Linked DNA regions of Homo sapiens: region 1 is linked to region 2. Evidence: fine-mapped expression QTL. A gene starts in region 2. The other region holds a variant in brackets. All regions are shown on one strand. Distances are between the middles of the regions.

Evidence for each region.
Region 1: its variant is fine-mapped to the expression of ARMCX4 in thyroid (GTEx, PIP above 0.99). The same link has a PIP of 0.9 or more in skeletal muscle, subcutaneous fat and whole blood.

Annotation. Positions count from the first base shown.
Region 1 is chrX:101,410,101-101,425,711 of GRCh38, reverse strand. It overlaps RPL36A-HNRNPH2 (RPL36A-HNRNPH2 readthrough), which reads right to left. Exons shown (of 4, transcript NM_001199974.2): 4 at 11,579-13,776. The coding sequence ends at 13,720. It overlaps HNRNPH2 (heterogeneous nuclear ribonucleoprotein H2), which reads right to left. Exons shown (of 2, transcript NM_019597.5): 2 at 11,579-13,776. The coding sequence starts at 13,723. The coding sequence ends at 12,374. It also overlaps a transcript of ARMCX4 not described here. Among named protein-coding and RNA genes, the nearest start is that of HNRNPH2, 9.7 kb to the right of the region's middle. The variant G/C (reference allele first, on the strand shown) is at 7,648.
Region 2 is chrX:101,477,894-101,493,504 of GRCh38, reverse strand. It overlaps ARMCX4 (armadillo repeat containing X-linked 4), which reads right to left and starts at 8,049. Exons shown (of 6, transcript NM_001256155.3): 1 at 7,975-8,049; 2 at 7,413-7,482; 3 at 6,233-6,312; 4 at 5,814-5,897; 5 at 5,406-5,461; 6 at 1-5,061. The coding sequence starts at 4,915.

The DNA of each region.
Region 1 (15,611 bases), 68 kb after region 2:
TCCATTACTTGCCTACCGGCTGGGCGCAGTACCTCACACCTGTAATCCCAGCACTTTGGGAGGCTGAGGTAGGCGGATCACCTGAGGTAAGGAGTTCAAGACCAGCCTGGCTAACATGGTGAAACCCCGTTTCTACTAAAAATACAAAAAATTAGTCGGGCATGGTGGTGTGCGCCTGTAATCCCAGCTACTCGGGAGGCTGAGGCAGGAAAATTGCTTGAACCCGGGAGGCGGAAGTTGCAGTGAGCCGAGATCGCACCATTGCACTCCAGCTTGGGCAACAAGAGTGAAACTCCGTCTCAAAAAAAAAAAAAAAAAGTGCCTTCCTCTCTCTGCTAACCACACTCCAATCTGTTCCATTCTAGATTTCTGCCCCGTCATTCCATGAAAATAGATCCATCCAGGACACCAATGCCTCCATATTCTTAAATGCAACACATATTTACCAGTCCACATCTTATTTGACCTCTGAGCAGCAATGGACATTGTTAACAGTCCATTCCCTACATCTTGAAACAGTTTCTTTCTTTGGCTTCAATGACACAAGTCCCTCCTAACTTTCTTTTAAACCTCCCTGGCTGCTGTTTCCCAGTCTCCTTTGCAGGCTGACTCTCCTGTACTCCACATGAAATACTGGAGTTTCTCAAGCCTCCTTCTTTGATCTCCTGCATTCTCACTCTGATACTCTTTGGCCTAGACAACCTTATCCCCACACATGGCTTGAATTATCAACTATATCCATATAGCACACAATTTATATATCCAATATATAGGCCCCTTCTGAGCTCTAGATCCATCCATCCAACTACCTATATTCTCTTGGGTGTTCTCAAAGGCACGTCAAACACAGTATGTCTAAGACTAAACTCACAGTCCTCATACCTGAACTTAGTATTCAATGTGATCTTAAAGGTCCTGCTTCTTAATGCTGTTACTCCAAACATCCAGTTGTACAAGCCAGAAACTGAGAAGTCACCCTTGACCGCTCACTCTCACTGTAAGATACAGGGGGGAGTAAACAAAATGTGGATTTTCCTATACTCTCTATTTAATATAGAATGCTTCTGTAGCCCCAGATGTATGGGAGAATTTTCCCATACATCAAGCAATCAGTTTTGCAGTGGACACCAGCTGGATGTCCTCTAATTGAATTCAGTTCTGTTACTACCTACCTGGAGATAGTGTCAGATCCCACAGTTTGAGAGCTCAGGCTCACAAGACTGCTCTCCACTTCAGATGCCAGGTTGTAAGCTATGCTTCTGACTGACCCACTGTAAATCAGGGTTCCCATGACCCTCCCCTTGGGTTTGATTAATTTGCTAGAGAGGGTCACAGAACTCTGAAAAACATGTTTACAGGTTTATTATAAAGGATATTACAAAGCATATAGATGGACAGCCAGATGGAACAATCACATAGGACAAGGTACAGGATAAGGGGCACCAAGCTTCCATGCCCCCTACAAGCACAGCACCCTCTAGGTACCTCCATGTGTTCGCTATCCAGAAGCTCTCCAAACCCAATTCTTTCGGGTTTTTATAGACTTTACAGCCAGGCACGGTGGCTCACGCCTGTAATCCCAGCACTTTGGGAGGCCGAGGTGGGTGGATCACATAAGGTCAGGAGTTCGAGACCAGCCCCACCAACATGGCAAAACCCTGTCTCTACTAAAAATACAAAATTTGCCAGGCGTGGTGGTGCATGCCTGTAATCCCAGCTACTTGGGAGGCTGAGGCAGGAGAATCGCTTGAACCCGTGAGATGGAGGTTGCAGTGAGGCAAGATCACGCCATTATACTCCAGCCTGGGCAACAAGAGTGAGACTCCATCTCAAAATATAAAAATAAAAAATAAATAAAATAGAGGCTTTACTATGTAGGCATGATTGATTACATCATTGGCCACTGCTAGTCAATTTAACCTTCAGCTCCTCTCCCTTCCCCAGAGGCTGGGGGTGTGGTGAAAAAGTCTCAACTCTCTAATCCTGCCTTGACCAGCGCCCCCGTCCTAAATCTACCTAGGAGCCTCAGCCACCAGTTATCTCATTAGCATGCAAAAGATACTTTTTTATTTTTATTTTTATTTTTATTTTTTTGAGACGGAGTTTCACTCTTGTTGCCCAGGCTAGAGTGCAATGGCGTGATCTCAGCTCACTGCAACCTCCGCCTCCCAGGTTCAAGCGATTCTCCTGCCTCAGCGTCCCAAGTAGCTGGGATTACAGGCATGTGTCACCATGCCCGGCTAATTGTGTATTCTTAGTAGAGATGGGGTTTCACGATGTTGGTCAGGCTGGTCTCAAACTCCTGACCCCTGGTGATCCGCCCACCTCGGCCTCCCAAAGTGCTGGGATTACAAGCGTGAGCCACCACCCAGGGCAAAAGATACTCTCATCACCTCAGAGATTCTAAGGGTTTTAAAAGCTGTAATTCGCGAAAATGAGGATGAAGACTACCATGGTTTGAATGTTTGTCTTCTCCAAAACTCATGTTAAAATTTAATTGCCCCATGGGCATGGTGGCTCACGCCTGTAATCCCAGCACTTTGGGGGGCCGAGGCCAGTGGATCGCCTGAGGTCAGGAGTTCAAGACCAGCCTGGCCAACATGGTGAAACATTGTCTCTAGTAAAAATACAAAGATTAGCTGGGCATGGTGGTGGGCGCCTGTAATCCCAGCTACTCGGGAGGCTGAGGCAGGAGAATCGCTTGAGCCCAGGAGGTAGAGGTTGCACTGAGCCAAGATTGCGCCACTGCACTCCAATCTGGGCAACATAGTGAGACTCCGTCTCAAAAATATATATATATAAATAAAATAAAAATGAAAAATTTAATTGCCATTGTAATGAAATCACCTTTGCAAAATTATAACTGAGGAAATTATGACAGTGAAAGAAATCAGACCTAACCGACTCCACCTTGCTTCTAACCTTTAAGCTGTCCTTGTTCATTCCTGGGCATAGGTCAAACTAACTTTGGGAAGGAATTCAGTTTGTGGTTTGATTCTGAAACAAAATTGATCATAGGCGTTTCTTTCCTGGGGACTAGTCTGCCTGTGCAGGACTAACAAATTAGCTACAAGATTAGAAATTACAGTTTAGGGGTCATGCAGCCTCTGGCTCCAAGAGTCTGAACCTCCCCAAATTGCTCCTGGGGATAACATCACTATTGTGAAACCTAAGATCAGTGCCTGAGATACTTTTCAGACCCTGAACTCGATGGAGCAGCTGACACCACCCAGACCTGTAATCTGGCTCAACCAGTTCTGCCATCCCACCCAGAACACAAAACTGCAAGAAAGACTCACTTCGACCCCCTATGATTCCATCTCCAACCTGACTGATCAGCACTCCGTACTTCCCAAGCCCCTACCCACCAAGTTATCTTTAAAAACTCTGATCCCAGCCAGGCACGGTGGCTCACGCCTGTAATCCCAGCACTTTGGGAGGCTGAGGCGGGTGGATCACCTGAAGTCAGGAGTTCGAGACCAGCCTGGCCAACATGGTGAAACCCCATCTCTACTAAAAAATACAAAAATTGGCCTGGCATAGTGGCGGGCACCTGTAATCCCAGCTACTCGGGAGGCTGAGGCAGGAGAATCGCTTGAACCCGGGAGGCAGAGGTTGCAGTGAGCCGAAATCACATCATTGCACTCCAGCCTGGGCAACAGAGCAAGACTCTGTCTCAAATAATAATAATAATAATAATAATAATAATAATAATAATAACTGATCCCCCAAATGCTCTGGGAGACTGATTTAAGTAATAACAAAACTCTGGTCTCCTGCACAGCCGGCTGTGTGTGAATTACTCTTTCTTCATTTCAACTCTCCTGTCTTGATAAATCTCTGTCTAGGCAGCAGGCAAGGTGAACCCACTGGGCGGTTGCAGTAATAGTATTAAGAGGTGAGACTTTTAAGAGGTGATTAAGCCATGAGGGCTCTACCCTCACAGGTGGGATTAATGCCATTATAAAAGGGCAAGATCGGTCTCCTCTTGCTCTATCTCTTGGCCCTTCTTTCTGTCTTCTGCCATGTCATGATCTAGCCTTCCTCCCCTCTGGAGGACACAGTGTGTGCAGGGACCATCTTGGAAAAAGAGAATGGCCTCACCAGACACCAAACCTGCCCACACCTTAACCTTAGACTTCCTATCTTCCAGAACTGTAAGGCAATAAATTTCTGTTTATAAATTACCCACTATCGGGTATTGTTATAGCAGCACAAAACAAACTAAAGACTAAATGTGTACTTCACAATATCACACTCCCTCCCTCCCAATTCCAATCCATTGCCAAGTCCTGCAGATTTTACCTCCTAAGAAACCCTAAAATATACCAATCCCCTCCATGTAAACCATGGCTATTGTAGTACAAGCTACTATTACCTCTACTCTAGATTGTTGAAATGGCTTCTAATAAAACTCTCCATACATTCTGACTCCTTCCCAATCCTTTATCCACACTGTAGCCAGGGCAATATTTTCTTTTCCTTTCTTTTTTTTTTTTTTTTTTTTTGAGACAGAGTTTTGCTCTTGTTGCCCAGGCTGGTGTGCAATGGCGCGATCTCAGCTCACCACAACCTCTGCCTCCCGGGTTCAAGCGATTCTCCTGCCTCACCCTCCCGAGTAGCTGGGATTACAAGCATGCACCACCATGCCCGGCTAACTTTTTGTATTTTTAGTAGAGACGGGGTTTCACCATGTTGGTTGGCCAGGCTGGTCTCGAATGCCCGACCTCAGGTGATCCACCTGCCTCAGCCTCCCAAAGTGCTGGGATTACAGGCATGAGCCACTGTGCCTGGCCCCCAGGGCAATATTTTCAAAGACAAATCTGATTCGTTCTCCCCATCCCACAGGGCTTCCAATGGCTCTTAGGATATAGACTGAATGGCTTAAGATGGCTTGTAAGGCCCTGCATGCCCTGACCCAACACACTGCTGTCCCAACTGCCTGTTGAACTCCAGCCACTTTCATTCAGTCTCTTTTACTCACCATGCCATCTCTGAACACATAGCCTCAAACCAGCTCCTCCAACTCTCACCTCCAATCTAATTAGCCACTATTCTTCCTTTAACTCTCAGCTCAATAACTGCTTCTTTGAAGCAATTCCTGACCACCTTGACTAGTCGAATACCCCTATTTTATAGGCTCTCATTGCACCATGTACCCTCCTTTTCATGATACTTGTCCTCATTGCAATTATACACTTGCATGGCTATTTGCTTGCTACTTGGCTCCCCACTGTACTATGAGCTCCTTGAGGACAGGAACTTAATAGGTGTTTTTCCTCAAATTTCCTCAGCACCCAGTACAATGCCTGGCAATAAATTGGTGGTCTTTTTTTTGTTTTTGTTTTTTTTTGAGACGGAGGCCCACTCTGTCACCCAAGCTGGAGTGCAGTGGCACAATCTTGGCTCATTGCAACCTCCGCCTCCTGCATTCAAGTGATTCTCCTGCCTCAGCCTCCCAAGTAGCTGGGATTACAGGCGCACACCACCATGCCCAGCTAATTTTTGTATTTCTAGTAGAGATGGGGGTTTCACCATGTTGGCCAGGCTCGTCTCGAACTCCTGACCTGATCCACCCGCCTCGGCCTCCCAGAGTGCTGGGATTACAGGCGTGAGCCACTGCATCCAGCCAATTGGTGGTCTTTTTAAAAAGAATTGTACCCTGGCAGGTCATGCTAATATATACTACTAGAAGCACTGTCTGAGAGTGCCTTCCGCCAATGGGAAACAGAGCCAGATACTAGTCAAAAGCAGTAAAGCCATATTTTGAGTACTATTATAATAGAGGAAAAGAGACTTCAGTATAGAACTAAGCTCAATCCAAAGACAACTAGGACAAGTGTGGATTTACAGTCAAGCAGCAGAGTGAGGGAGTCAGTAGAAAGAAAATTCCTAAGGGGAGAGAGATATCAAGGGTAGGGGGATTCTTGCTCAACTGACTAAACAGGATTCTCGCTCAAGGCAGGACAAGGTGATCAGGTATCAAGGGTGAGGGAGTTACTCAGCAGGACTCTTGCTAAAACTGGGCTAGGCAGGCCGAGGACAGGGCCCAAGGACAAGGTGTAGTTGAAAAGAAAGCTGAGAGGAGCCTGTCCAAAGTTTGCTCAAAGAGACTTTGTTACTTCCTCAGGCCAGTGTATGTTTCTTTATCTTTATGTCTTACTTTGCTGCTAGTCTCCCCACAAAATAGATCATATCCCCACTACTCTTTACTTATTATTCCATAGGCATTTTAAGAGCTTCTTTGAGTTATAATTTATATTTCATAAAGTTCTCCCCCTTTTCAAGTGCAAATTCAATAGTTTTTAGTAATTTATAGAGTTGTGCGAACTATCACCACAATCTAAGTTGGGACATTTTCGTTATCTCTAAAAGACGCTCCATGCCCATTTGCAGCCACTCCCAGTTCCCACCCCATAGCTGCTTTTGAAAGCCATCATATTTGCCTAAGGATGAAAGGTACAGCCTCACTGGAAAAGCAAAAATCAAAACTACCACGCGTGAAATAATTTGAGAACCACCAAGCACTAATTGTGCATTTCTGATTATTTTCTCAAAAACATTTAAAGACAAGTCAATGTGAACTAAGGAGTGGGAGGAGGTTTCAAGGAAAAGGTAGAACATTTTAAGGTTTTTCTGCAGAGGAAAAAGTGAGCAAAAAAAAAAAAAAGGAAAAGGAATTTAAGTTGAAAAATACTCCAACAAACGAACCAACATGTTTTCAGAACTTTTTGAAGTTCCAGTATGGTGCTGTCACGGTTGGTGAGCTGTCTGTCCTTGATCCAGTAGACAATGCGAGTTTCTAGAACAGAAGGATAAGGATTTATCACAAGCCATAAAAGCTGAAGCAACACTCAACTGAAAATAAACATGTATTGAGCGCCTACTGTGTGTCACGCAAGGGGCTCTGCGCAGGAAAAAAAAAAAAAAAAAAGGCTCCTCGCAGCTCCCCCTGCCCCGGCCAGGTGGCTGCGTGCCCCCTTCCGCCTAATCCCTGGACTGCCCTGGGGCTGAGAACTCCCCTGGCGCGAGAAGCTGGACTCCCCCGGGGACCGGCCCGAGATCACTCGGAGTCGGGGGCGTCCGGCACAGGCCAGACGCAAGGAGGACCCAGCTGGGGCCGGCCCTTCCTTCCCTTCTCCTGTCGCACGACTAGGCCTGTGCCCGGTCCCACCTGCCGCCCTCCCCCTCCTCCTAATGGGACCGAAAAGAGCCCGAAGGGCCTGGGAGGGCGGGTGAGGTTCCCAGGCCTTTCCAGATGCCCTGCCGTGTTTGGCAAAGCGATTGTCTTCCCTCTTGGAGCTCCGCGGACACCCGACCCCTCTTCCTCTCCCTCGCCACCTTCCGTCATTCGCCACGCTGACCACTTCCCCTCTGCTGCCTCCCGCTGAAGCCCCAGCCCGGCCGCGGCCGCCATTTCCCGACAGCCTCTTCCCTGTCCCTTTCCCTGAAAGGAAATGTACTGGGGCGGGGCGGGGCGCTGTGTGAGGGTCTCGAGAAAGCCGCCGGGGAGAAGGAGGGATGGATTCTTTCCAAACTCTCTCCGCTCTCCCGGAGCCCCCTACCTCACCCTTTCTCCCCGAATTCTTGTGGGCTTGGGAGCGAGAGAGAAGGAGCTGGTCCCAGCGCTAGTCACCGCCACCCTCA[G/C]CCCACAGATCGGGGGGGGCACGGGTACTCGTACACCACCCCATAAGGATCCCAGCCATGTCCTCTTTCCTTCGCCAGAGCTCATTTCCTCCTCCCTTCCAGCTTCCTGCCCTTTCCCCAAGACAAAGTTGATGTTTGCCTTCCCTGAGACTCAATTTCCTCATCTCTAAAGTGGGATGACACGTAAGAACATCTTGTATATGTGAAACATGCCCTGTGCAAAAGAAGGGGAGCAGGAAGAGGGATACAGGGAGAAAAAGGGCCGTGGAAAAAGGGTCCTTGGAATGTACGGGTAGATGTTCTAAAGAATGTATCGGTCAGAGCATTAGGATAGGTTCAGAAAATAATTACTGAATATATTATTTTGATTCTTAGATGTTATCTCTCACTATTTATCTCTTCTTTCAGAAGCCTAACATTCTCTTCTCAGAGGGCCAGATCGATGTGTGTTGTGTGCATTTATCTGTGCTGACCACTGCTGTGACGGAGGTGGTGGGGCGTCCATTCACAGGCTGCAGGCACAGGGACAACATAACTGTGGAATCCTAATTAGAAAAAAGGAGTTAGGCTGGCTGGAGCAGGGGAAGGCAAAGGGAGAAAGCAAATAAGCTATAAGTTTGTCTTTCTTCATGGTCCAGAACATATAAACAAAAAGAGGAATCAGATAAGCTATAGGTCTGCTTTTCTTTATGGCCCAGGACATGTGGCTTCTTGCGCAGATAACATACATAACTCACAAACTTCCTGCTCACTATCAAACGCCTCAATTTATCAAACACCCCAGCTAACAGAAGAATGCAAGCTAGCTCCCTACTGCCTTGGTTTTCTCAATCAGCCCAAAAACCATCCTATAAAATCTCCAGCAAGCCTTTGTTTCTTTTCAGTCGGCTCCTCTCTTGCAGGCTGCCCGTTGCCTTCTCGAAACGTATTTTCCTACTTTCTCTAATAAATCTGCCTTTACCTCCAACTGTCTTGGTAAATTATTTTACCCCTGCACCACCAGCCCAGTTAGTCGACACTCCCCCGCGACGATAACCCCTCACCTTCCCAGCGGAGTCCTGCACCATGCTAACCTGGGCCCCTTGGGCATGCCTGCTTTGCACTCATGAGAAGACAGTTTTGGTCATTGTGGGAGCAGCTTGTAAAGGGTTCTTGTGACACTCCCAGCCTGGTATAAGGCACAGCAAGTGGAATTTCCTTCCATCAGCAGCTGTTTTGCAATAGCCCTGGAGGCCCATCTTGGAGAAATCTTCATTTTAGCTGACAGCACTAGGAATTCTACCTGATGGAAAAGGAGCTTGATTTATAAACATATTCGCAATGCATTTTCGTATCATTTTGCTGGGTAGAGAAGGCAGAGAAGATATGTCATGCTTACACATGGGATTGTCTCTGTTTTGGTTACCTCCTTTAGGGTTGGATGAGTGAATGCAGGAATCAATGAATGGGTGGATAATGGAATCCATGTATCCATCAGCCAGTAGTTTCCTGCAGCAGAACCACCCTGAGCACTTGTTAAAACACAGCTTATTGGCTGGACAGAGGTTCACACCTGTAATCCCAGCACTTTGAGAGGCCAAGGCAGGAGGATCTCTTGAGCCTAGGAGTTCGAGACCAGCCTAGGCAACATAGTGAGATCCCGTCTCTATAAAAATCATTTTAAAAAATAACTGGGCTTGGTGGCACTCGCCTGTAGTCCCAGCTACTCGAGAGGCTGAGGTGGGAGTATCACTTGAGCCTGGAATTCAAGGCTGCAGTGAGCTGAGATCGCACCACCGCACTCCAGCCTGGGCAAGAGCGAGACCCTGTCTCAGAAAAACACAAAAAACAAAACACAACTTGTTGGGCTCCACACCCAGTTTCTGATTCAGTCCTTGGGGGAAAGGGACGAGGCGGGGGGCGGGGGGGCAAAAAGAATCTGCATATCTCACAAGGTGGAGGTTCATGCTGTTACTGATCAGGTACCACACCCAGAGAACCACTGGCACAAGCCATCGGATACTTAGACCACGATAACTGTGGCTGCAAATTTTCTGCCTGATCCTGCCAAATAGCTCACACACGCAGTTGAAAATAAATCCTCTGACTCAGTGTTTGGGGGGTGTTGTGGGTGGACTGCCCACTCGACCTCCCATCACTTTCCTGGGTAGTAGTGTTAGATGTGAGTGTTGGAGCACGAATGGTGGTGGGTGTGCACGCGTGTGCACACCAGCTGTACTGCTGTCCCTTTGCACACCTCTAGTGCTGACCGCTGACCTTCTCCAGGTTCTCTCTCCTTTGCTCCCCAGAGCCCTTCTGAGTCTTCTTAGCCAGCGAAGAAGAGTAAGTGAACATCTAAGATCACAAAGAACCCTCTATTGTCTCCTGGGATTTGGTGCCATCTAGTGGCTAACTTGAGAATCTTTGCTCAGACTTAGAGAAACTTCTGGAAAATTAACTAAGTAGCCTGGGAAGGCAAAAACACCTACTTGTTTACCCTCTGAGAAAGGCTTCCTGAAGGGCAAGGACTGGCTCAACATGATAGGAGTCAAAATGGATTTCTTGCTCTCCTGAAAGCTGTGATAAAAATTAGAAGTCATCAAAGAATCTCAATCACGTCTCACTGCATCTTCAGCTTGAATGATTTTCTAGAATTGATTTTCATTTCCTGAATGAAACGGAGTCAGGTAATACCAACTTGGTATTTGCCTCCCATCTCATTTCTCTGGGCCCCAAGCCCTGAACAGCCCAAGTATAGCAATCCAGTCCCCAAGGGGTCAGTGAAACTACAGAGATCTGTAGTTCACGGTACAGTTGGTACTGATAAGAGGGACATCAGGGCCTTAAAGTTATTGAGGGGTGGAATTGTTAATGACCACTGTGATCCAGACAGAAATCTAAGATATCAGCACACAATGCCACAGCAGCTCAAAATCCTCATTAAGAGGTGCGAGGTATTGTAAATATGTGGTTTGGACTTTAACAGAAAATTTAAACTACTTGTTATGGGAACAAAGGGGAGGCAATCAGGGATCATAAAGGAAGCTGCTCCTTAAAGTTGCTGTTTGGGGAACTGTGATGGGTCTCAAAACGTGGTCTTGAGACCAGCAGCATCAGCACATTCTCAAGCAACATCCCAAAACTACTGAATTGGAAACTCTAGGGATGGGGCCTAGAAATGAATGTTTAAACAACCCCTGCAGATGATTCTGATGCACATGAATGTTTGAGAACCGCTGGTTTAAGATAAGCTTTAGATGCCCTAAAATACACCTGAGAGTGTTTATAGAGAATCTACTAATGAATTCATGGAGGAGACAATTTATTTCCATAACATAAACCTGCTTCTTTTTTATGTTTTGTTTTTAACACATAATTGTAAGCCTACTTCTTTTTAAACATACAAACGTGCCTTCTAGTTTGTGGTGAAATAAAAAGGATTATTTATTTGCTTTCACTTCTTTGGATTTTAGAGAATACTATCTTGGTAAGTACAGTCTCCAAAAGTAGCTCAATAGTCCTGTAGACATGGTAAGTTTTTTTTAAAAAAGAATGTACAACTTTAATATTAATCAAAAAAATACAAATTAAAATAGCAATGAGATATCATTTCTCAACTAAAAAACTGGCAAAGTTCAAAAAGAATAATGTGCATCAATAAGGAGGGTATAAGGGGGAAAATAAAACACACACTCCAAGTAGAAAGATAAAGTACCAGAATCTTTCTGGTAACACAAATCAGAAGCCTTAAAAATGAGTATATCTTTGACTCAGCAATCCCATTTCTAGGGATATATCTTAGAAATAATTAATGATATATGCAACAATGAACATATAAAGATGCTAAATATCATTTATAATTTTAAAATTAAAAATCTTAACTTTGAGGGAATTGTAAAGTCAATCAGTGTGCCCATATGACAGAACATAATAAAAATCAATCAGTTCAAGATTTTTTCCAGTTTTTAAAAGGAAGATTTATTTAACAAGTTTCACTTAGTACAATACATCTAAATGGAAATCACAATACAAGGAAAGATTTAAACCAAAGCCTCAGATTTTCATACAAACGACACGACCAAACTTCTAAAGTATTGGTATTACATCTTAAAATTGTCCCGTATCCTTAAAAAAAAAAAAAGTGTACACTCACGTGCCTTACAGGATATTAAACCAAAAAGCTAGAATTAACAAACATGCCAAATGTTTTCACTTTGAATCGTAGACACAGCTCCTATATTTGAGTTTTACAGAAAGGCATGTTTCTCAACATGCATCCGAAGTTTTCAATGTATTTGTGGTATAAGAGCAACATTTAACATAAGTGAAACTGCATTAACCTAAATACGCTTACTGCTTAGGTACACTCCTACAACATAACTAACTTGAGGAAAGCTAAAAATTGTTTTAACAGTTATGGTCAATACTGAACTTTGTTATTATGTCCTAGATGAATGTTTCAGTGTTCAAAATTACTGAGCTTGAAGTTTTAAAATAATCTCAACTTCCACTTTACAGTAAGCATGAATCACAAGCCTGTAATGCAAAACTGTTAAACTTAACTCGTTTTCTTAAAAAAGGAGAAAGAAAGATAAAGAAAGAGAAGCTGACCAAGAGTGATCAGAATCAATTATATTTCCCATTTACCAATCATACTGGATATACTAAACATCCCTCCCATTCTATTCAACTCCCACAAATGTACAGCTTTTATATCTGGAGTAGCTATTTAGTGCTCCTTCTCTACCTAAGCAAGGTTTGACTGATAGTCACTGGAGTTTTCCTGCAGAACTTGGTCATATCCACTCATACTGCTCTGACCACCATAACCACCTCCATAACCACCACTCAGCTGCTGGCTAGCAGGACCTCCATAACTAGACTGGTTGGATAAGCCCATCCCTCCCATCATTTGGCTACCATAAGCGCCACCACTTGCCCCTGCTGTAGAATTCAAAAAAAGTTCTACATAGCTGTGATCGTAAGCACCCCCACTTGTTCCTGCAGTAGAATTTAAGAAGAGCTCCACATATCTGTGTTGCATATTAGCTTTGTCTTTTGCCATAGCTGCCACAGCATCTTCATGAGTAGCAAATTCAACATCTGCCTCACCGGTAACTCTGCCATCGGGTCCAATTTCAATATGTACTCTCATGGGATTAAGAGGTGAGAAGAAATTATAAATATCATTCTCAGTGGCTCTGTAAGGTAACCCCCTCATGTGTACACAGTGCCCTGTGGTGCTCTGGAAACTGGACCCACCATCTCCGTATCTATGATCAGACATTCCTGAAAAACAGTAATTGAGGTCTCTTCCAAATCTATCAGACCCAAAGCCATATCCATCATTATAGCCACCATAGTCATCATAGCCTCCATACCCTCCACCATAGGCACCACGCCTCATCCTTTCAAACCCAGCTCCTCTGCCAATGCTATTATACCCTCTGCCAGCCCCCGGCCTATCATAGGGACCTGGCCGCTGCATAGCCATGAGCTTTCGAGGGGGATCATAGTGGGTTCGAACTTCAGCTCGGCTACTCTTGAAGATCTCAATGTACCTGTGCCCTATTCTTTCCTTGTGTTTCTTTAAGGCCTTCTCAGCTATCTCCTGTGAAGCAAACTGCACAAAGGCTTCCCCTGTGCTTCGCCCCTGAAAGTCCACTGGCAGTGTCATCCCATTTGGCACAATTTCCAACCCTGAAAAGAACTGAACAATCTCTTCCTTGCTACAGCCAAATGGGAGTCCTCTAAGCCGGACGAAGCCATCGTTGGCAGTATCAGGGCTATTCGGACCTGTATGCTTCAACACCCAATCCATTTCAACACTGTTAGACTTGAATACTTCAACGTATCTGTGTCCCATGGTTTCTCTGTCCTTCTTCAAAGCCAATTTCACTTCCTCTTCAGATTCAAGTTCAACAAATGCTTCACCACTTGGTCTGCCTTCTCTGGTGTAGATGAAACGAATACCTGATGTGCCATTTTGGATCTTGCAATCAGAGAAGAAGCGCATCACTTCATCGGCTGAGCAGGACCAGGGTAGGCCCCTGACCTTCACCACGAACCCCTCCCTGCCTTCCGTGCTCAGCATCATGGTGATTGTTGGGCTCTTGGTGGCAAGTTTGGCTCAATGCAATTTTGGTGTAGCTGAAAAAAAAAAAAAGAAGACTACTGTCATGGAAAAATGCTCGTGATATAGTAAGAGAAAAAAGCAAACTATTAATAGAAAATTCAATTATGCTGACAGCTTTTCTGTAAGACGTCTGTATAAACAGAGAGTTCACCAAATTTTTAACTCATTCATTTTTTAGCAGTTATTTATTCAATGCCTATTACGTGTTAGATACCATTAAAAATTAACAGCAATCGGCCGGGTGCGGTGGCTCACGCCTGTAATCCCAGCACTTTGGGAGGCTGAGGTGGGTGTATCACCTGAGGTCAGCAGTTCGAGACCAGCCTGGTCAACATGGTGAAACCCCGTCTCTACTAAAAATACAAAAAATTGGCTGGGCGTGGTGGCAGGTGCCTGTAATCCCAGCTACTCGGGAGGCTGAGGCAGGAAAATCGCTTTTATGTACCCAGGAGGTGGAGGTGAGCCAAGATCACGCCACTGCACTCCAGCCTCAGCGACCAGAGCAAAACTCCGTCTCAAAAAAAAAAAAAAAAAAAAAAAAAAAATTAACAGCAACAAATCAGTGGGAGATGTCAACAAATAAAAGATGGCTATATCTGAATATATAAACATAAAAAACTTCACTAGATCAAAAGATTAAACAACAATTAAAACACAAACAAAACACAGGTTATGTAAGTTCTTTATATAATATCTTCATTATATAAAAATGTATGCAAATCAATAAAATCAGGGAAATATTTGGGCTCCAGAGATAAATGAAAAAAAGACATTATTGGGAATTCACACATTCATTTTAGAAACATTTTTTAGTTGCCATGTCCAATATTCGGCTCTGGCATACAAGAATCAATAAGCCCAGAATGGGCTTATGGTCCTACAGGAGCACCGAATGTCATTATTAAAGATGTAAATGCAAATATACATTATACTTGCCATGACCCTCTGAGTGGAGTGTAAGCATAGTATCAAAGAGGGACTAGTTGATCAGTTCTATTGGTTGGAGGCCAAATGGTTAAATGAAACAGACTAATCTGCCCAGGGATCCATAAACATTTTTTTTTCTTAATTATGATGAAGCACAAATAGGAGAGGGAAAAGCAAGTGAAAAGACTGGCAAGGCATAGATCAGATCCCAAAGACTTTGATATACAAACACTAAGCGCCTTTTAAGACTTTTAAACCGGGGAGTATGTAGGGTGACTTCACCAAAACTCTTTCAGACAGATCACCCTGGCAACAGCGTGGCACTCAAACAGAAGGGGGTCGACGTGGAACTAGGGAGATTAGTTAGAACTTGTCTCATAAATATATGTTAAAGGAATCGCCTAAGGCAACAGGAGTAAAATGGAGAAAAGATGTATCTACACATACCAAAAAAAGTGGAATCTGCGGGACTTGATAACAGATTAAGTATGAGAGAATACAGGTATAGGAGGATACAGGAGAGGAATCTGGGAAATGTTCAAATTTAATCAATCTTCCAGCAAGTTAAAATCAGAACTAATCGTTATTTTTCACCCATCAAGATAATGGAAATTAAACAGCAACAGTAAATCAGTGCTATGCAGTTCACAAACTAATACACTACCAGAAGAGTGATAATTGATATAAACTATTTCCTTTTTGATAAACCCCACTATATCCTGAAAGCAATTTGATAATATGTATCACGCCTTTTGACAGCAAATACATTTCAGTTATGTGCCCTAAGGAGATGATCTGAAATTCAGACAGATTTATGGAGCTATATATTCTTTGAAAAGTACTTTATTAAGAAAACGAATATTATGCATTTAATTTTAAAAGTTACAAAAATATTTAATAACATGAGAAATTACTTATGCTA
Region 2 (15,611 bases):
CAGTGCCAGCCCAGGACCCACCACTGGACTGGTCTGCAGGCCCCGGCCTAGCTCCCCCAAGGACCTGGCCACCAGCCACACCCCAGGAACCTATTCCACTGGACTGATCCTCAGACCCTGGCCTGGAGCCTCCACCAGTCTGGTCCCCAGCACCAGGCCAGAACCCCCCTCCAATGGCCTGATCCTCAAATCCAGGTTTGGAACAACCACCAGCCTGATCCACAGCCCCAGCCCCAGTCCAGCAGCTTCCACTGACCTGACTCCCAGGGCTATCCCAGGACCCAGCACTGGACTGGTTCGTGGGCCCTGGCCTAGACCCTCCAACATCCTGGCCACTAGCCCCACCCCAAGACCCTCCATTCGTCTGACTCCCAGGGCAAACACAGAACCATCCACTGGCCTGGTCCCCAGTGCCAGCCCAGGAATCTCCACTAGACTGGTCCCTAAGCCCCAGCCTAGAATCTCCAACAACCTGCTCCCTGGCATCAGCCCAGGACCCTCTGCCACTGACCTGATCCTCAAATATAGGCTTTGGCCCAACACTAGCTGGATGCCCAGCCCCAGTCCAGGACCCTCCATTGGCCTGGTCCACAATCCCAACTAAGAATCCTCCACTGATTTGGTCCCCAGAGTTAGCCCATGACCTTCCACTGGACTGGTCTTCAGGCCCCACCTTGGACCCTCCACCAGCCTGGCCACCAGCCCCAGCCCAAGACCCTTCTTCTGTGGTCTGATTTTCAAATCTAGGCTTGGACCCACCACCAGACTGATCAAGTGTCCCAGCCCAGGCCCCACCACTGGACTGATCTACGTGGCCCAGCCTAGACCCTCCACTGGCTTGGTCTGCAGTGTCAGCCCAAGACCTTCCACTGGACTGGTCCTCAGGCCCCAACATTGACCCTCCACTAGCCTGGCCACCAGCCCCAGCCCAGGACCCTTCTCCACTGGCTTGATCCTCAAATCTAGGCTTGGACCCACCACCAGATTGATCACTAGTCCCAGCCCAGGACCCTCCACCGGCCTGATCCACAACCCCAGCCCAGTATGAAACACTACTCATATTCCCAGCCCCAGCTCCAGCCCAAGACCCTTCACTGGCTTGGTTCTCAGCCCCAGTCCAGGACCCTCCAATGGCCTCTTCCCCAACCCAGGACACCCCACTGGCCTGTCCCCCAGGCCAGGACCCATCACTGGCCTGACCCGCAGCCCAAAGCTCTCCAATGGCCTGATTCCCAGCGAGAGCCCAAGACCCCCCACTGGCCTGGTTCTCAGCCCCAGTCCAGGCTCCTCCACTGGCCTTGTCCCCAGCCCAGGTCCCCTCACTAGTCTGACCCCCAGCCCAGAGCCCTCCACTGGCCTGCTCCCCAGCTCTAGCCCAAGTCCCAATACCAACCACATTCTCAGCCCTGGCCCCAGCCCAGGACTTAACACTGGTCTCATCACAAGCCACAGCCCAAGACCGAATAATCCCAGCCTTATCACTAGCCCCACTCCAGGACCCAATACTGGCTTCATTCTCATCATCAGCCCAGGACACGCTATTTTCCCAGTCTCCATCCATGGTCTGAAACCTAAATTTGATCCACCGCTCAGCAGCAATCCAGTCTTCAACACCAATCCCATTCCAGTAGTAGTCATGGATGTTAGGCTGAGTCTTTCTGCAGGCTTGAGTGCCTGACCCACCCTCACTCTCAGAAGTGGGCATGGCCTCAGCCTCAGGCTTTGCATAGGCCTCATCTTCTGCTGTGGCTTCTGCCTCAGAAGTGGACATAGACTTGTCCCTTGCCCCAGGCAAGGTCTCACCCTGGGAACCGGCCACAATCTGAGGCTGGGCAGAGTGCCTTGTGCCTGCCCCAGTCCCTGCTTTAGGCACAGCAATGGTATTGCCCTTGACCTTATTCCTGGCACCAAGCAAGGTCTCACTCTGGGAATTAGCGACAGCTTGGGGCTGGGCAGAGCCCACTGTATCTGCCCCAGCCTCTGCCTTAGGCACAGCATTGGAATTGCCCCTGACCTTATTTTTGGCCCCAGGCAAGACCTCACCCTGAAAACTGGCCACAACCTGGACCTGGACAGAGCCCATTATGCCTGCCCCAGCCTCTGCCTTAGAAATAGCATTGGAATTGCCCTTGACCTTATTCCTGGCACCAGGCAAGGTCTCACGCTGGGAGTTGGCCACAACCTGAGGCTGGGCAGAGCCCATTGTATCTTCTCTGGCCCCTGCCTTAGACACAACATTGGAATTGCCCTTGACCTTATTCCTGGCACCAGGCAAGGTCTCACGCTGGGAGCTGGCCAAAACCTGAGGCTGGGTAGAGCCCACTGTATCTTCTCTGGCCCCTGCCTTAGACACGACATTGGGATTGCCCTTGACCTTATTCTTGGCACCAGGCAAGACTTCACCCTGGGAATTGGCCACAGCCTGGGGCTGGGCAGAGCCCCTTGTATCCATCCCAGCCCCTGCCTTAGACACAGCATTCCAATTTCCCCTGACCTTATTCTTGGCACCAGGCAAGGTCTCACAATGGGAATTAGCCACAGCCTGGGGCTGGACAGAGCCTGTTGCACCCATCCCAGCTTCTGCCTTAGACACAGCATTAAGATTGGCCTTGACCTTATTTTTGGCACCAGGCAAGACCTCACCCTGAGAATTGGCCACAGCCTGGAGCCGGGCAGAGTCTGTTGTATATGGCCCAACCCCTGAATTAGGCACAGTAGTGGGATTGCCTCTGATCTTATTCTTGGCACCAGGCAAGACCTCACCCTGGGAATTGGCCACAATCTGGGGCTGGACAGAGCCTGTTGTATCTGTCCCAGCCCCTGCCTTAGACACAGCATTGGAATTACCCTTGACCTTATTCTTAGAATCAAGCAAGGCCTCACCCTTGGAACTGGCCATAATCTGAAGCTGGGCAGTGCCCATTGCACCTTCCCCAACTTCTGCCTTAAGCACAACATTGGGATTACCCTTAACTTTATTCTTGGTGCCAAGCAAGGCCTCACCCTGGAAACTGACCACTGCCTCAGGCTGGGCAGAGTCTGTTGTACCTTCTCCAGCCCCCACCTTAAGCACAGTATGGGGATTGCCCTTGACTTTATTCTTGGCACCAGGCAAGGCCTCACCCTGGGGATTGGCCACAACCAGGGGCTGACCACAGACCCTCTGGTCTGCCTTAGTCCCGGCTTTAGAAGTGGCATTAGGATTGCCCCTACCATCAACCCTGGAATCAAGCAAGGCCTCAGCTGGGGTCTTGACCCCAGCCTGAGGTTGTGTACAGGTTTTCATGTCCATCCCAGGCCCTGTCTTACACTTGGCTTTGGCTTTGCCCCTAGCCTTACCTCTAGTATTAGGTAAGGCTTCACCCTGGCTCTGGGCCATACCTTGAGCCTTCATATCCACCCCAGCTCCTTCCTTAGGCATGGTATTGACATTGCCCCTGACCTTAATTTTGCCATCAGACAAGGTATCAGCCTGAACACTGGCCACAAGCTGAGGCTGTGTACAGGACAACATGTCTGTCCCATCCCCCACCTTAGCCATAACATTGGGATTGCCTCTGCTCTTATCCCTGGCATCAGGCAAGGCCTCAACCTGGGAATTGGCCCTCAAGTTTGCCTTGGCCCCTGCTTTAGTCATGGCATTGGGATTGCCTCTGTTCTTAACCTTAGCATCAGACATGGCCTCAGCGTGAGTACTGGCAACAGCTTGAGGCTGAGCAGCAGCTCTCATGTCAGCTCCAGTTATTGCCTTAGATATGACATTGGTATTTCCCCTACCATCAACCCTGGCACCAGACGTCACCTCAGCCTGTTTCTTGGCCACAGTCTGAGGTTGTATACAAGCTCTCACATCTGCCCCTGCCCCCACCTTACACATGGCATTGGTGTTACCCCCGGCATCAATCTTTGCCCCAGGAATGGCCTCAGTCTGGGTTTTGGCAAAAATTTGAGGCTGAGCAGAAGCCCTCGTGTCTGCCCCAGACTCTGCCCTAGACATGGTTTTACAATTCCCCATGTCCTCAACCCCAGTACCAGGCATGTCATCACCCTGGATCTTGGTCACAGCCTGAGACTGTGCACAGGACTTCATGTCCACTCCAGCCACCTCCCTGGACATGCCATTGGGATTTCCCCTAGCATCAACTGTGGCACCAGGCCTGGCCTCAGACTGAGTCTTAGCCACACTCACAGTCTCTTCCAGAGCTCTTGTCTTGGTTTCATCCACAATTCCAGTCTTGTTCGTGGCCCCCATCTTGGCCACTTCCCTGGGTACTGCCAAGGTCTCACTCTGTGTAACCATTACTCTGTTAATCTCTGTCTCTTTTTCAGCCAATATATGAGTTTCAGCTTTGGTCTGGGTCATTGCTTCTCTCTTGGCCTCTGTCTTGGCAACCAGCGCCCAAGCTTTAGCCTTGGTCTGTGTCACTGCTTCTTTCTTAACTATTTTGCCAGCCTCAGCATCAGTTTGGGTCACTGCTTCTTTCATGGCCACTTCCCTGGCTTTGGCCTTGACCTCAGTCAGAGTCACTGCCTCTGTCATGACCAGTGTTCCAGCCACCACTTTGGACTCAGATTGAGTCTCTGGCTCTGCCCCAACCATTGCCTTGGCCTGAGAGTTGGCTCTGTGTATGGCTATAGCAGTGGCCTTGGTCTCTACTTCAGCCCTAGGCCCACTTCTTGCTCCAGTTTCTGCTCCAATCTCGACTTGGGGTTTAGTCTTAATCTCTGCTTCATTTATGGCCAAGGTCTGGCTCTGTACCCCAACCACAGTCTCCATCTTAACTGTGGATCCATTTCTGGCAAGAGTCCTCACACTCTGGGCTCTTCCCTTGGTAAATTTGTAAATGTAGTAGCAGGTGCCAGCCCAGATCACCAGTCCTGCAGTCACCCAGCCCACTTCCTGAATGCGGCCCATGTAATCACCCCTGCTAAAAGCACGAACAAGGTATGGTAGAGCGCACTCGGGCTGGGGTAAAGAGAGTGGTAGTTGTGGGTGTAGGCCTGTGAGGGTGCTGGTCTTCAGCCACTCAAAGGCCACTACAGCTGCCTCTGGAGGTGGACCTAGAAGTGGAGGAAGGAAATGGACTAAAATTTCTCTTCTGATTTTGTTGCATCATACAGATAGATACACAGAGGAACAGAAAATGGTAGAACCATGTGCTTGGTGGAAGAGAGGATGATTAGCAGCCTCTCCATTCCTCTTATTTCATCTTCTCTCCACCTTCCCCAATGCCCAATAATTTTCTTCCAAGATACTTCTATACACATTTCTATACACCAAATGAACAGTGGAAAGGATGGTAGGAGGTCTGACGATAAATGGGAGCAACCAAGAAGTCCCAGACTTTGATTTCTACTGGACCTACTCTGGTCACCTGTCTACAGGGCCCCACCCTCATACCAACCTGTAATGATCCGAGGCAGTTCCCTCCTCTCCTCTTGCTTCTCTTGGCAGTACACCCTAAAGTAGATACATAAATTCATGAGATCTCTGGACCTAGAGACAGACAGACAGATGGAGGGACAGATGGGAGTAGAGAGTTTGTTCTTGATGGGACAGACATATTATTAGCAAACTACCTTTCTACGTTTCTCAGTCCACCCCACTCCCTAAGACACTGTCACACTCTTTTCCCTGTACCAGAATTAAGGTGAGGGTATGGAGTAAATGACAGGGATGGTGGGAAAGGTGGCTGGAAAAGGAGAGACTGAGGATCCTCATCCTCCAGACTGGTCACTGGTCCTTACTGGATGCACACTGGTCTCCACCAACCCACTCTAGAGGTCTACCCAGGCAGTCCCCACACTCTTACCAGTCTATACTGATCAGGAGCAATCTCCTCTTTGTTTCTTTGCTTCCAGTGATCTTAAGCCCTGCAGCAGACATGCAGGCAGATCTATGGACAAGTAAACAAACAGTAGGTAATGGAAACCGAGTCCCTGGTAGAACAGACAAGCAACCTGATCCCTGACCCCAATGTCTGCCTCGCCAGAGCCCAGGTTCTATATACTAATGTGTACCATCTCATGGTCCCCCCATCAAGTCTTCCCCCAGTCATACTCCAGCCCACCCTTACCCCCATATTCCTATCATTTCCTGCACTGAAATCCACAGGAGGCATGGCAGCACTGTGGCAATCCAGCACTCCACTGAGACCCTCTTAAATCTCACCCACCTCCTATGCCCACCCTCTCTTGTCATCCCCAGAGACTACCCCCACTTCACACCAACCTCCATGCTTCTAGATTGATCTCCTCCTCTTTCCCTTGCTTCCAATGGTAAACAGCCCTACTGCAGGCCTATGGGAAGACCTTGGAACAGATGGAGAAAAAGAAGAGAGTGGATGTTAAGTACTTGTGACACTTACCATCTAAGACATAGGTCCCTGTACCTGCCTGCCTGGATTTAGAGACCCATTTGCTGGCAGAAAAAAAAAAAAAAAAAAGCCTGGGGCTTCCCCAGCACTGAAATGGGAAGGATGGAAAAGGGAGGCAGGAAAAGTAAAAGGCAACAGACAGAGGCACGTTATTTTATTTTATTTTATTTTATTTTATTTATTTTATTTTTTATTTATTTTGAGACAGAGCCCCACTCTGTCACCCAGGCTGGATTGCAGTGGCAAGATCATGGCTCACCACAGTCTCGACCTCCCAGGCTCAAAAGATCCTCCCACCTCAGCCTCCCAAGTAGCAGGAACTACAGACTGTGCCACCATACCCAGCTAATTTTTAAATTATATGTAGAGATGAAGTCTCGCTATGTTGCCCAGGCTGGTCTTGAACACCTGAGCTCAAGCAATCCTCTTGCTTGGGTCTCTCAAAGTGCTGGGATTACAGGCAAGAGCTACTAGGCCCAACAAGGCAAATTATTTTAAAACCACCTGTAGGGTTCTAGGGATTTCCCCAAAAGCCCACCATTTCCTTCACCAAGATGGTCAGGTAGGTAGAGGGATCTGGAAAACTGAAGGATGGCAGGAGAGATGGGAGACCCCAGATCCCATACTCTAGAACCACAACCTACTGCTGTCCACGTCCCTTTCAACCTATCTCTAGGAGTCTCCAGCAGAAGAGAAAAGCTATAGGGGAAGCCTTTTGCTTCTACAAAATCACTATCCTTCCCCACCAAAGGCTATCTAAAAAATAATAATAATAATAATATTCTTTAATATAATTTATCTTTTTCTCAATATTATCTGAAATGCAAATAAAAGCATCTGTAGAAAAGTTTGCTGTCTTCATTGGTCTTCAACATACAATTTAAAAGTCCTAAGCTTGGTAAGTAAAATGCAGTTTAGGGAAAGTCCCCAAGCTAGCCCCACCCCACATCCCATTCAGACAGCCGCACCTAAGTTCCTGTCATAGAATTCATATGGAACTCCAATGGTTTAGATAGTGTCTGTACTCACACTAACCTCCTTGATCCAGTGCAGTTTTCTCCTCTCCTTCCTTTCTCCTCGCCGCAAACAGTGCTACACCGAACTACTGTCCGACAGACAGGAGAGAGTAAAACCACTTAGTGTTGGTCTAGAGCCCAGGACATAGATCCCAATACTCGCCTTTCCGGGTTCAGGAACCTGGTTATCAAACGTCCCTCCCCACAGTCTGAGACACCACCCTTACCAACCCCACCGTCCAGTCTCTAAGGCCCACCATTTTCTCTGCAAACGCCACCGTGGCGCATCCCTTCCACTAAATTGAGCAGGAAGCGAGCGGACATGTGTGGCCAGTGATTAGAGCGATGGGCATCTCAATCTCTGTATTTCCCTCTGGCAGAGACAATCTCCCCACAAATCAAAGCCCACGGTTCGCCTGCACAGATGTAGGCGGGGGCAAGGGGGCTAGGGAGAATCAGAGGCAAAGGCTCCTCGAACTTGAGGCAGCATAGACCACCGCCCCCTCAAGCCCCGTAACCGCTGCCGGGGTCAGTGAGCTTCTGCCGGCCTGGCCAGGGCGCGCGGGCCCCAGGGCCCTTACCTGCTCCGCTTTCCCCGGGCCCGATGCCAGCCCGCCGAGCGCAGGGCAGCGGGGAGCTGGTAGCCAGATGCGAGTGACGACTGCAACGAAGGCTGCGTAGCTCTGCAGCTCCGGGTCACGTGAGGACCGCGCGTCACCGCCGAGCTCGCCCTCCTCCCCAGCACCCCCTACCACCCACCAAGGGCCGGCGGCCAGTCACCAGGAACTCCCCCCTCCTCCACTCCGCACGCACAGACATCCCCGTTCTCTGGTCTGTGCTCGGTGCCCCAGTGCGCACGCGTTGTCACTCATCTCCGTCCTCTCCAATCTGAGGGCCCACAAGTGGCATCATCGCCTTGTGGTTGGAGTTTACCCATCTTCAGTTACAGGGGAGGGTCTGCATCCCCCTACCCACTCCCGGCCCTTGGCTGTGGCCTTTTATGTTTCTTCTTTGAGTAATCACTTATTTCTCTCTTAGACTATAAGACCAGCACTCCCCACCCGCCCCCTACACGACCTGCCCTCTCTAAGTACAATGCCTGCACCAAATGGGCTGTGGAAGGGGGTATCAGGAAGGAAAGCAGAAGGTGCAAGTAGAGCTTTAATTTTCTTTTTCGTGTTCCTTTTTTTTCTTTTAATATGACATTCTTTTCTAATATTGTAATCAGAAAATACAGTATAGCCATTTTCATTTGACACAAAAAATATTCAGGGTGTAAAAATAACAAAAGACTCATTCTTTTGTTTACATTATTTTGTGCCACATTTTAAAATGTCTTCTGTTACTGCAAACTATTTTACAGCTTTCAAAATTGACTAGTAATTCTTGACATTTTAAATACAAAATTGTCCTAAACAAAACCAGCACGTATTCAATATGATCTATAAGTTAATCTTTGGAAAGACATTTCGTTTTCTAATATTGACAATTTTACACAGGTGATTTGTAACTTTTGAAGTTCTGGCTGAACTCAGCATCTTTTTTCAGGTGTCTAAGACCTTCTTCAGAGAAGACTTCTAGAGGATATATTTAAGACCCAACTCCTGATGAGCCTAGTGCTTTACTAGTGACTTACCAAATTAACCTGCTTTACTAGTGACTTCCCAAATTAACCTGTTTTCCATTCAAGGGGCTTTATTTGGATTTTACATAAGCATGTAATCAGATCAGCCTCACCACACCCATGGAACAACCAACTGCTAGAGCTTGGATGGAAAGGAGACTTAACAGGTGGAATTTTCATCCGTCGTAACACTTGAGATCTCGCCGGTGTCTGCCATTCATGTACTACATACTACCCTAGCAGTGGCGAGTGTTCAATATTTTCCAGTGGAGATGGTGGTGAGGGTCTGTGGATGACTGTGAATCACTGCAACACACCTGATGTCCGTGTCATTATTTTTTTCCCTCACAAGTGGAAGGGCAATGTACAGGATCCCAAGCAATTGCCAAGAAAAAGAAGTTTTTTCATGTCCTGCCTTGTGTTACAACTTCACTGCACCTCCCATACAAGCCCCTCAGAATAATCCCAAAACTCAGGGACCAAATATGCAGAAGTTAGTCCCCACGCATCCACCTGTCCCCGCTGAGGAGTCATACTCCAAATATAGACCCTCCAGGCAGCCTCTTTCTTAGAACATTGAAATAGGACACCCCAGAGGGAGGGGCTCCACTGTGAGGGGCCCCTGTGTGGAGGAGGCCCTTTCAGGAGCCAAGAAAGGAAGTCCTAGTGCCTTACAATCTTACTAATGGCTTTTCAGAACTCAATTGAAAGTGACGAACTTACTTTCTCCACCAAAGGAAAATATTGATAAATTAATTGCATACAAATTTTAAACTTTGGTAAAGTAAAAAAAAAAAACCATAAACATTGACTGTCAAAAGGCTAACTTGTAATAATCTAAAAGCTCTTACAGATCATTAGTAAAATGATAAACAACCCAATAGAAAAATGTGCCAAAAGACATGAACAGATTTGTTCACAGAAAAGAAATAGATTACTAATAAACATATGAAAAGATGCTCAAACAAAGAAATGCAAATCAAAGCAACTATGCCTTACCATGTTTCAAGTATGATTTTCTCAAAGTTTAGAAACTTGATAATATTGTTGACTGGTTTGTCAAGAAATGGGCACTCCTCTACTCTGTTGGAGGCAGATATTGATGCAAGCTTTTTATATAGGGCAATTTGGCAAACTCTATTAAATGATAACTATAATATTTCACAAATTCTTTGACCCAATAATTCTATTCCTTGGAATTTAGCCAACCTATATGCCTACACAGTTTCACAAAGATATATTTACTAGAATTTTTTTTTTTCGCAATGCTTGTAAGGTTTGAAAAAACTGACGCAGCCGGGCACGGTGGCTCACACCTGTAATCCCAGCACTTTGGGAGGCCGAAGCAGGTGGATCACGAGGTCAGGAGTTCAAGACCAGCCTGGCCAACGTGGTGAAACCCCGTTTCTATTAAAAATACAAAAATTAGCCGGGCGCAGTGGCAGGCGCTTATAACCCCAGCTACTTGCAAGGCTGAGTCAGGAGAATGGCTTGAACCCAAGGGATGGAGGTTGCAGTGAGCCTAGATCACGCCACTGCACTCCAGTCTGGCTGACAGAGTGAGACTCTGTCAAAAAAAAAAAAAAAAAAAAAAAAAGCCTGACGCAACATAAAATGGCTATTGATAGGGGAGAGATTAAATAACTCATGTTATATTTATACAATGTGGCTGATGGAGTTAGCTCTGTGTATCCCAGTGGAAAGATAATTGGGGTGTTTTAATATTTGCTGTTTACTTTACATACAAATCCCACAAGAGTACAATTCTAGTATAAAATTCAAACCCAAGGCCAAGTGTGATGGCTCACGCCTATAATCCCAATACTTTGGGAGTCTGAGGCAAGAGCATTACTTGAGGCCAAGAGTTTGAGACCACCCTACATAGGTTTCCCGACATAGGGAAACCTGTCTATTAAAAAAAAAAAATAGCTGGGCTTAGTGGTGCATGCCTGTGGTCCTAGCTACTTGGGAGGCTACTTGGCAAGAAGATTGTTTGAGCTTAGGAATTCAAGGTTACAGTGAACTATGATTGCACCACTGCTCTCCAGACCGGCAATGGCGTGAAACCCTGTCTCTGAAAAGAAAAGAAAAGAAAAGAATAGTCAAACCCAGAAAAAGCACTAGTACCACTTTCACTCCCCTATCCTCACCCAAATCACAGTTACCTCTCCATTTTAAGTTTGGTGTATTAACCTTTTGTATACATGATATACACATACATGTCTTATTAAAATATATAAATGAGATTTTTTTTTATATGGAGTCTTGCTCTTTCACTCAGGCTGGAGTGCAGTGGTGCGATCTTGGCTCACCGCAACCTCCACCTCTCGGGTTCAAGCGATTCTCATGCCTCAGCCTCCCTAGTAGCTGGGATTACAGGTGCGCACCACCATGCCCAGCTAATGTTTGTATTTTTAGTAGAGACTGGGTTTCACCATGTTGGCTAGGCTGGTCTCAAACTCCTGGCCTCAAGTGATCCAACCACCTGGGCCTCTCAAAGTGCTGGGATTACAGGTGTGAGCCACCACGCCTGGCCAGGATCATAATTAACATACTGTTTTGCAACTTGCTTTTTTTTCATTTAAAATTATGTCTCAAAGAGCTCTACATACCAGTACATTTAAAGCTGCTTCATTCTTTTTAACTGCTGCATATTATGAGTTCTGGATCCGGAGCTAATAAAGCAAGGTTACAATGAACAGTCTGGCACATAAAGCTTTGCCAACAGGTAGAAGAATTTCTTTAGGATATTCTACTATAAATATAATTATTTGCTTAAATGTATGAGATTTTATACATTTGATATTGCCAAAAGAAGGATGTGAGATTTTATATAGTTAATGGATATACCACCAAACTGTCCTCCAAAAAGGCTTGGCCAATTTATACCCCCATCAAACATAAGACAGGATCTATTTCCCCACACTCTCATGCACACTGTGTACAAATGTTTCTCAACTTATAATGGGGTCATGTTCAAATAAACTTATAGGTTGAAAATACCATAAATCTAAAATGCATTTAATACATCCAACCTACCAAACATCATAGCCTAGCCTACCTTAAAAATGCTCGGAACACTCACATTAGCTGACAGTTCGGCAAAATCATCTAATGCAAAGCCTATTTTATAATAAAGTGTTGAATATCTCACATAATTTATTGAATACTACATTGAAAGAAAAACAGGATGGTTGTATGAGTACTTGAAGTACAGATTTTACTGAATGTGTATTGCTTTTGCACCACCAATTAAAGTAAAAAAATCATAGGTTGAATTGTCATAAATTGGGGACCGTCTGTATTAGTAATTATTGCCAATATAAGAGTCAACAAAAGATTGTCCTTTTTTTTGTTTTGTTTTGAGATAGGTTCTCACTCTGTTGCCCAGGCTGGAGTGCAGTGATGTAATCACAGCTCACTGCAGCCTCGACCTTCCTGAGCTCAGGTGATCCTCCCATCTCAGCTTCCCCAGTAGCTGGGACTACAGGCGCATGCCACCACGCCCAGCTAATTTTTGTACTTTTGGTATAGACGGGTTTTTGCCATGTTGCCCAGGTTGGTTTCGAACTCCTGAGCTCAAGCAATCCACCCACCTCGGCCTCCCAAAATGCTGGGATCACACAGGTGTGAGCTACTGCACCTGGCAAGATTGTCCTTTTAATTCACATTTTCCTAAATATCTATTATCTTGAGCATAATTTCACATGCTTAACATCCATTTGCATTTCTTCTCTGAGTATTAGTTAATATCCTTTGAGTATTTTCCTATTCAGCTGTATTTTTTAAATGGTTTGTAGTTCTTTACACATTTCTGTATATTAGTTATTTTTCTGTTATATAGGTTGTACATATATTTTCTCAATCTATCACTAACATCTTAATTTTATGGTATTTTTGATATTCAGAATTTTTACTTTTTTAGACAGGGTTTCGCTGTGTCGCCCAGGCTGGACTGCAGTGGCGTGATCATAGCTCACTGCTGCCTTGAACCCCTGGGCTTAAGCGATCTTCCTGCCTCAGTCTCCTGAGTAGCTAGGACTACAAATGCATGGCACCACGCCCAGCTAATTTTTATGTTTTGTAGAGACAGGGTCTCACTATATTCCCCAGGCTGGTCTCAAACTCCTGGTCTCAAAAGATCCTCCCACCCAGACCTCCCAAAGTGCTGGGATTACAGGCATGAGCCAGGGCTATAATCCCAGCACTTTGGATTCTGGAGCCATGGCACCTAACTCCAGAATTTTTACATTATGATGTGGTCAAAACATTAACCTTTTCTTGTATGGCTTCTGGGTCATTGCATATATATGTGTGTGTGTGTGTGTGTGTGTGTGTGTGTGTGTGTGTGTGTGTGTGTGTGTCTCCAAATCCTAGCACCATTCATATAATAGTCCATTATTCCCCAATAAATTTAAAGAGCTAACTTAACCATATGTTAAATTCTCATTTATACTCAGATCTGTTTCATCGATTGACTTTTCTGTTTCACTGATAATATATATAGTTATAAACTGCCTCAATATCACACTTTTACATGGTGTCGTTTTGTAGCAAGTTTTGGTGTCGGGGAAGACAAATCCTTCATTGCCCTGCTTTTTCCAACTATTTTTGGATATCCTTGGGCATTTCAAGTGAAGTTCCAAGTTTCATTTTTAAAAAATCTTGTTGGACTTTTCATTAGGATTGCATCCAATTTATAGATTAAGCTGGGTGTGGTGGGTCATGCCTGTAATCCCAGCACTTTAGGAGGTCACGGCAGGTGGATCACTTGAGGTCAGGAGTTCAAGACCAGCCTGACCAACATCGTGAAACCTCGTCTTTACTAAAAATACAAAAATTAGCCAGGGGTGGTGGCGCACACCTGTAGTCCAAGCTACTCGGGAGGCTGAGGCATGAAAATCGCTTGAACCCTGGAGGTGGAAGTTGCAGTGAGCCCAGACTGTGCCACTGCACTCCAGCCTGGGCAACAGAGTAAGACTCTGTCTCAAAAAAAAAAAAAAGGAATTTATAGATCAACTTAAGGAATAATTAAAATCTTAGTAATAAAGTATTTTCACCCAGGGTCATGTAGTATTTTTAAAATTTATTCACATCCTCTTTTGTGCTCTTCAGGAAAATTGTCATTTTTCGTGTGTGTGTGTGTGTGTGTGTGTGTGTGTGTGTGTGTGTGTGTGTGTGTGGTTTTCTTTATAGATTTTATACATTTCTTATTAGCTGTATTCCCCAATATTTCATAGTTTTTGTTAATATTGTGAATGTGGCTTTTTGTACATTATATTCTCTCTACATTTTTTAGAAAAATGATTTCACTATTTTTATAAAAATGATGCATGCTCATTATAAAGAAGCAATGCAATGCAATAAAGTACACAGAATAAGATAAAATATCATCTCAGATTCTAGCACTGTGAAATAACGAACTTTCAAATGACAATCAAACTTCCCAGGACATGTTATGCTATTTAGATCTAAACATTTTATTCTTTCTTAAGAATATATATATGTGTGTGTGTATGTATATACATATATATGTACATATAGTTATTTCATTTAATTTCTTCTTTTTCATTTCCCGTCAATGTAATTATCTGAAGCCCTTCCTCTGTCCATAATTCAATTTTTAGCCACATGTTTCTATTTCACTCTATTTATAATTTATTCTATAATGTTGTTTTGTCCTAATGGGTTCTTTAGTTTGCAATCTTCCTTTTTACCTAATTCTGCTGTTTTCACATCTCATCTTTGCATTCTTGTTTTATTAAGTTCATATTCTTATTAAGTTGTTCTATAGCTTAAAGTACTTGGAAATTTCCTTCTGTTCTTTGTGGTACGCTTTTTTCTTGTTTAGATTCTTTGTCTTGTGCTTCCTGTATCTTATATGGCTTCTGAGGAATGGAAGAGCCTGGTTACCCTGCACCACAATGCCCAGTTCTGGAATCTCCTGTTTCTTTACTTGGCTGAGATATTTTGAAGTTTACGTCATTGGAATGTGCCCCTTTCTTTGGTTGCTGATGATCATCTCCATTCTTCTGCTGTTTTGTTTTTTCTGCATTTTGTTGAATATTAGGAGAGATCTGGTGAAATGGTATCTTCCCTCTATTCTAACATAGAAGCTTCTTATCCATTTTCCATTTGTGTATTGCTGGTGCAAAGCAAAGCTACAATTTCTGAATGTTGACCTTGTATCAGGCCACCCTAATGAATTTGTATTATTAGTTATAAAAGTTTGTCAGTTGATTTTCTCTGATTTTCTCAAAAGACATTTATATTGTCTGTAAATGACAGTTTAATATTTTTCCTTTCTGATACTTTATACTATTCATGTTATCTTTTCATCTTATTATATGTAACAAGAAGTCCAGAGTAATGTTGAATAGTAAAGGTGATAACAGACATCCTTATAGTCAGAGTCTAGCTCCTGAATATAACAGGAATGCTTTTCACGTTTCATCATTAAGTACAATATTTCTATGCATCTCCTACACAAATCCTTTGCCAAGTTAAGGAAACTTCTATTCCTAGAATGCCAGGAGTTGTTATCAGGAATGGATGTTTAATTTGAACAAAAAATTTTATGGTTCCTATTGAGAT